Linked DNA regions of Homo sapiens. The protein of the gene in region 2 purifies or fractionates together with the protein of the main gene of each other region. This does not show direct contact. Each region holds a gene or a part of one and is shown on either strand. Other genes may lie near its edges.

What was found.
Region 1: the proteins of RBM5 (region 2) and MARF1 purify together in Homo sapiens (affinity purification with mass spectrometry; one large-scale study listed by BioGRID and IntAct). This does not show direct contact.

The regions. Positions count from the first base shown.
Region 1 is NC_000016.10:15,601,533-15,605,347, forward strand, and holds part of MARF1 (meiosis regulator and mRNA stability factor 1), read right to left. Parts: intron 2,867-3,815; coding exon 2,636-2,866; intron 672-2,635; coding exon 459-671; intron 1-458.
Region 2 is NC_000003.12:50,105,666-50,109,480, forward strand, and holds part of RBM5 (RNA-binding protein 5), read left to right. Parts: coding exon 1-44; intron 45-1,101; coding exon 1,102-1,199; intron 1,200-1,816; coding exon 1,817-1,904; intron 1,905-2,404; coding exon 2,405-2,482; intron 2,483-2,566; coding exon 2,567-2,639; intron 2,640-3,815. UniProt on the Homo sapiens protein: Component of the spliceosome A complex. Binds to ssRNA containing the consensus sequence 5'-AGGUAA-3'. Regulates alternative splicing of a number of mRNAs.

The DNA.
Region 1 (3,815 bases), on a different chromosome or scaffold from region 2:
CAACCCTGCATCTGCTCATGTCATCATCCCCTTTGCCCAGAATGCTCTCTCCCCTCCTTGTCACGTGCTTCCCTCAGGCACATCCTTGAAGGTTTTGCAACAGGCTCCCCAGGCTTGGGAAGTGGGCCCTGACACGGCCCTCCTCAGCGCGCCCACTGCCCTGACCGCCCTGACTAGTTGCCTGCTTGGGGGTCTTGACTCTCCCATTAACCAACACCTTTCTAGAGTTACAGCCTGAAACTTACTCACCTGGCATATAGGGATTTAATAAAGGTTTACAGAAAGAATCAAGGAGAAATGCTAAAATCATTTACTTTAGACCAACAGTATGTTTTGAAAGGATCAATTCAAAATGCCTGCCGTTCCATTATTCTGGCAGCATTTTATTTTTCTGTTCAGGACAGTTAGCCTGTGGCTGTTCAGAAGATGCTCTCCCGGAAGCTGAGAAAAATGCCCACCTGTGGAATTGCTCCCAAGAGCTCCTCCACGCTGCTGTGGCCGTAGGTCTTGGGCTGCAGAGTTTCTCCGACATACTTGGTATAGGCCATGGAAAACTCATGAAGGAAAATCTGCTGGTAGTGGTAAGTATGAAGTAAAGACCGCACATTCTTTGCAAACAAATACAGACTTGTGAGCTTCACACATTCTTCCATCTTATCATTAGTGAAAACCTGGTTAAAAAGAAAACGCAGCATTAGAAATATTAGTGACTGGCCCTGCCCCGTGGAAAGTGAAGGCCTCCCACTGAGGGAAAAGGCCCAGAGTTGAAGACGAAGACAAAGAAGAAAAAGAAGGCAACGAAGATGAGAAGATGAAGATGAAGAAGGAGACAAAGATGACGAAGAAGAAGGAGACGACAAAGATAAAGAAGACAACAACAAAGAAGATGAAGACAAAGACGACGAGACAAAAACGAAGATAAAGACGACAAAGATGAAGACAAAGAACAAGAAGACGAAGACAAGACGAAGACGACGATGAAGAAGACGAAGACGACGATAAAGAAGACGAAGACGACGAATTGGACAAAGACAAAGATGAAGAAGATGAAGATGACAAAAAAGACAAAGAAGAAGAAAGGAGGAGGAGGAAGGAAAGAAGGAAGAGGAGAAAGAAAAGGAGGAGGGATATATTCAAGGATTTCCTCCAAGAGAAGGCTATAGCCTCCAGCAAACTTCAGTTCTATTTGCAAGTCGAAGGCTGCAGCGGTCTGAAGAGACAGTGTGTGAGTAGGGAAGAAATCGGGGGAGGCAAACTGTGTTGGCAAATCACGGTACACACAGTGAACACTGGGGCCATTAAACTGCACCTCCAAACCAGTTTTCCAAGAAACACTGTGATAAGAGGATGACACTAGCATTCTTTAAAAACACATCAAAAGCAACAAGAAACAAACACAAAACCCTTGTGTATGCAGGGTAAGGAAGCAGATTTCTTTACCACAAACCTTTTCAAAGTGTTTAACATGCTATGGAATCGCCAAGAGAAAGGATATTCCCAATCTTAGCTGGACAGGGAAAGTCCTTTGTCCTGAAATATGCATTAACACCTGTCCAGAACTGGTGTTCTTAGGATAGATATTAACAGAGTTTAGAAAATGCTGGATGTATATCCTTTCATTATTTAATGATGTGTCCCACAGTTAGATGATAATGGCATATCATTCTTTTAAATTGCTGGAGCTCATTTGTTAATATCTTATTTAGGATCATTTTAAGGGACTATCTTATGTTTTTGGTATTAAATTTATTTTGGCTTCGTAAAAATAAATGGTAAGCTTTCCTTTTTTCTTTTTCAGCAGCCTAGAACAGTATTTTTTTTCTTGGGGATGGGTTCTTGCTATGTTGCCCAGGCTGGCCTCAAACTCCTGGGCTCAAGTGATTCTCTAGCCTCAGCCTTCTTAGTAGCTGGGATTATAGACGTGTACCACCTTGCCGGGCCCCAGAATGGTTTTTTAAAAGGTAGATTTATCTGTTCTTTTAGGGTTGGTTGAAATTCAATTGTTATCTCACTTGGTCCTGATGCCTTTTTCACTGGTATATTTCAGTGATCTTTTATAGTCTCTTTTATGGTAATTGGTCTAATTTTTAACTTCTTGAGTGAATTTTGGTAACTTATTTTTTCCAGGATTTCATTTATTTACTCTAGGTTTTTATATCTGTCGCCCGAGAATTGCATGCAGTATTCTCTTAAGATTCTCTCAATCTTGGAGCGCCATTCTTGAAAGGCTGCCTGGGGGACTGGCTGGCCAACCTTCCTTTCTGCCCTCACCTTACTCATCTCTCTCTTCAAGCCACCACATAAACCATCTCATTCAGAAAGATAAAACAGTAGCGAAATCCATCCTGGAATGGGACAAACACACCCCAGAGCCAGGATCAGGAGACCAGGCTTTCATCCTAGAACGGGACAAACACACCCCAGTGCCAGGATGAGGAGACCAGGCTTTCACTGGCTTCTGCCACCCATTTAGGCAGGGCTGCTTCACTGCCTGAGGTCTCGGCGTGTTCATCCATGAAATGGTCTCTCGGGTCCCTTCCAGCTCTACACACTCTAATCTAGACCATCAGGTAATCCGGAAATGCCCAATCGATAGTTTTCAATGATAGTTCTAAAGAGCCATTAACGTGCCTACCTCAACCAAGTATGGCAGGCTCTTCAGCAGTTCGGTCAAGGTCATGAATCCATATTCACAGGGGTTAAGGGGAGTGTTGTGGGTACTTTCGTAATGTCTCTTGAGCTCCTCAACAGAAAGATGGGTGGTTCCTTCCCAAGACATCAACAATACCAGCAACTGGGCAGTGAGAGATCGCAGAGACTTTCGGTTGATCAGCTGAATCTGTCTGCCAGATTCTATATCGGCAACCTGGGGAAAACGAGAATTCACACTTTTCAGAGCTCAAGAGAGACACCCTAGGTTATACCCAACTCAGCTCACTTCATTTTGGTTAATGAGACCAACAGATGAAAAATCTCTAATTTTTTTCTCTTACACTGAAATAAAGCAAGTGGGTTTGTTTTTAGCGTCTTTGGGACACCAGACCAACATGGAAGCAGAAACTGTCCTCCCCCTGCCGGTCCATAACTGAAAACTCTCAACAAGATAATAATGGGGGAGGAAATTGCATCATTCTCTTTATTTTTCATTCATTCTTTCCAAACCCCACTATAAGAAGGACACAGACTGGCCAGCTGATGGCCAGTGGTCCAAGCTTGTGAAGTGTGGGTTGCTGTGCTCGAAGGGGGGTAGGGATGGGGAGGCTAGACTCTAAGCAACACTCACATGGCTTCTGTGCAGACCCGACTTGCCCATATGCGTCCCCAGGGCGGGCTGGGGAGGTGAGAGAGGGCCTACTCTGATTACAAGGCAAGCTGCATTTTTCTAGTCTGCTATTACTCACCACAAAGCTGGTATTTTCATCTGACTAGTAACTGTCCACTCCTCAATTATTTCAGATTCTCAAGGAGATAAAGGGTTTAAGCGGTTAAATGCGCTGAGAGGGAAACCTTACAAAAAAGACAGAGATTGTCACTTGGGGACCAAACACCATGTGAAGAAACACGCATCTGGTGACTGAGCCAGCAGGCTGTGGGTGGCGAGGGTGAGGCTGTGGCGTGAGCCTTTCCTGGCACAAAAACAGGCAGAGCTTTGGCACACACACGGCTCCGGCACTGCTCTCACAAACCAATGCTCATCCTGACAGCTTGTTTGCCCCCTTTATCTGGTTTTCCTGCCAGGGCCAAAGGTCTTGGCAGGGCTAAGTCACCACAAGTTGGCACTCTTTGGACCGTGGATTCTGAGAGGCAGAGAGAGG
Region 2 (3,815 bases):
AGCAGAACAGAGGCTTCGCATTTGTGCAGCTGTCCTCTGCAATGGTGAGGTTCTCATCGATTCTTTCCTTTTTAAAAGAAACAGCTTTAAGAGGCAAATGTGGTTCATCCAGTTTTGAAACTGTCTGAGGCTCCTAAAGCCCAAGATGCAAGGCTCCCTAATGACAGTTTTTGCACTGCTAAATTACAGGACTGATGACTTCAGTAAGTAGTAAAAATAATGTGTATACCTATAGGCAACTGGCAGAATTTTTTGAGCCACAGTTTAGTCCTTGGTACTTTGTTTTTTGTTGTTGTTGTTCTTTTTTGGGATGGAGTCTCACTGTCGCCCAGGCTGGAGTGCGGTGGCACCATCTCGGATCACTGCAACCTCTGCCTCCAGGGTTCAAGCGATTCTCCTGCCTCAGCCTCCTGAGTAGCTGGGATTACAGGTGCCCGCCACCACGCCCAGCTATTTTTTTTTTTTTTTTTTTTTTTTTTTTTTTTTTGAGAGGGAGTCTCGTTCTGTCGCCCAGGCTGGATGGAGTGCAGTGGTGTGATCTCGGCTCACTGCAAGCTCCATCTCCCCAGGGTTCACGCCATTCTCCCGCCTCAGCCTCCTGAGTATCTGGGATTACAGGCGCTCACCACCATGCTCAGCTAATTTTTTGTATTTTTAGTAGAGATGGGGTTTCACTGTGTTAGCCAGGATGGTCTTGATCACCACCTCTGCCTCCCAAAGTGCTGGGATTACAGGCGTGAGCCACCGCGCCCAGCCACGCCCAGCTAATTTTTGTATTTTTAGTAGAGACAGGTTTTTGCCATGTTGGCCAGGCTGGTCTCGAACTCTTGACTTCAAGTGATCCGCTCATCTCAGCCTCCCAAGTGCTAGATGTACTTTGTTTTAGATTGGTTTAGCATTTGCTCTTTTGGTAATACTGGAAACCTTCACATCTTAGAGGAAAGAGAGATATTCCTTTCTTGAGGTTTCATATCTGCAAACACAATAAGGAATTAATTGCCTTTTATTTTTTAATAGAAAACTACTTCTTTGAATGGGGTGGATGGTAGGGAGAGATTTTTAATTGCATTACACGTTTTTTTCCTTCACATTCTCCTTCAGGATGCTTCTCAGCTGCTTCAGATATTACAGAGTCTCCATCCTCCTTTGAAAATTGATGGCAAAACTATTGGGGTTGATTTTGCAAAAAGTGCCAGAAAGTGAGTGGCTTCATTGTCCTTATTTCAAACTACTGCATATGCACATTTGTACAGTGTGCTAACTGAACGCCAAGCCTGTGCCCCAAGTATGTTGAGACACTGTGATCCTCCCTGATTGCCAAGGCCAGGAGGGACACGTTTGTCTTCTTTTAGTGATTATTCCCTACTGTCCTGTGTAACCAGTTGATGAAGTTGCCTGAAATGGTTTCAGATCAGGAGAAAGGCAAGTATGGCAGATGGGTTGAGAACACATGCTTTGCAAACTGCAGCAGTATAGTGCTAACCCATCCAGAAATAACCCATTCCTTCCAGAACAGCGTGCTAATAATTTCATGTATATAGTGCTTAACTCTAACACGGTAAATTTCCCTTTTTTTAGTATCATTGCACATTCAAAAAACTCTTCGTTAGATGGCAGGTTACAAGGTAGAACAATGATACTACAGGGCCACTTGCTTACTGAGGAATTTCCCCATGAAGAGCCCTCCCCCTGTGAAATGTGGCCTTGCTGGCATTTGAGAACTGACAAAGGGTGGAGTGAATCAGTTGGTGGTATAGGGGCACTAATTGTGGGAATACTGTGATAGAATCACATGATTGGATCTTTGTGGTTTCAGAGACTTGGTCCTCTCAGATGGTAACCGCGTCAGCGCTTTCTCTGTAGCTAGTACGGCTATTGCTGCTGCTCAGTGGTCATCCACCCAGGTAAGATCGAGGATCTTTTTGCTCAAGGTAGTGTGGTGGTGGTGCCCAGATTCACAGACGTGACCTCTCCTGTGGTACTCGCAGTATGAGCTCTTTTCTTTTCTTTTTTTTTTTTTTTTTTTTTTTTTTTTTTTGAGACAGAGTATCACTCTCGTCACCCGGGCTGGAGTGCAATGGTGCAATCTTGGCTCACTGCAAGCTCCACCTTCCAGGTTCAAGTGGTTCTTCTGTCTCAGCCTCTTGAGTAGCTGGGATTACAGGTACCTGCCACCACGCCTGGCTAATTTTTGTATTTTAGTAGAGATGGGATTTCACCACGTTGGCCAGGCTGGTCTTGAACTCCTGACCTCAGGTGATCCACCCACGTCAGCCTCCCAAAGTGCTGGGATTACAGCCGTGAGCCACAGCGCCCAGCATCATGAGCTCATTTTTAGGGACTTCTGAATTTTTTTCCTTAATGCCTACTAAGTTTGTCTTTGTCTCATTTTGATGTTTTGTAGTCTCAAAGTGGTGAAGGAGGCAGTGTTGACTACAGTTATCTGCAACCAGGTCAAGATGGCTATGCCCAATATGCTCAGGTAGGTAGATTTTAGCAGCATCCACCTTATAGTCTTGCAGAGTGTGTCTGAGAATAGCAGCTTTAATGGTGGACTTTTCTTCAGTATTCACAGGATTATCAGCAGTTTTATCAACAACAAGCTGGAGGATTGGAATCTGATGCATCATCTGCATCAGGTAGTAAACTTCATCTCCCTTTTACCTTTTGTTTAAGCACTTACAGTTGAAGAAATATGATTAAATGTCCTAACTGGACCAAAAGCTACAAGTCCATTTCTCTGTAAGATTGTAGGGGGCATGGCCGGGCACGGTGGCTCACGCCTGTAATCCCAGCACTTTGGGAGGCCAAGGCAGGTGGATCACGAGGTCAGGAGTTCAAGACCAGCCTGGCCAACATGGTGAAACCCCATCTCAGCTAAAACTACAGAAATTAGCCAGGTGCGGTGGCAGGCGCCTGTAATCCCAGCTACTCAGGAGGCTGAGGCAGGAGAATTGCTTGAACCCGAGCGGCAGAGATTGCAGTGAGCTGAGATTGCGCCACTGCACTCCAGCCTGGGCGACAGAGTGAGATTCTGTCTCAGAAAGAAAAAAAAAAGAATGTAGGGGGCATATTCAGGGCTGTCATCATGTACCCAAGGTTCTGGGGAAGAATACGGTTATTTGTGTACACCAGGAGTTAATACAAGGTCTTAGAGACCATGTTGTGATGAGTTTAATTCTTGGAATTCAACTCTGTATTTCCCCTCTCTGTGTTTGGAGTCGTGAGTGCCCACGTAAGTTCAGGTGAGCAGAGAGGATGTGGCCCTGGAGACTGGTGCTCAGACATCAATCAGAAGAGCTACTCTAAGAAGCCTTGGCTTTAATTTTTGTTTCAGGCTTTAAAAAGCCTTGTGAGTTAAATCTTTCTCAACCCCAGAGCAAATATAGATCCTTTCTTCTCTTCCTTTTCTCTTCTTTTTTTTTTGAGACGGAGTCTCGCTCTGTTGCCCAGGCTGGAGTGCGGTGGCGTTATCTCGGTTCACTGTGAGCTCTGCCTCCCAGGTTCACGCCATTCTCCTGCCTTAGCCTCACAAGTAGCTGGAACTACAGGTGCCTGCCACCACTCCCGGCTAATTTTTTGTATTTTTAGTAGAGACGGGGTTTCACCGTGTTAGCCAGGATGGTCTCAATCTCCTGACCTCGTGATCGGCTCGCCTTTTCCTTCCAAAGTGCTGGGATTACAGGCCTGAGCCACTGCACCCGGCCTCTTCTCTTTTTCTTAGCCATGATACAGAATCCTTAACTTTGTATATCACATCTAGTAGAATTATAAGAAAATGAAAATGTCACAGATTCCAGGGTACTTAGTGGAAG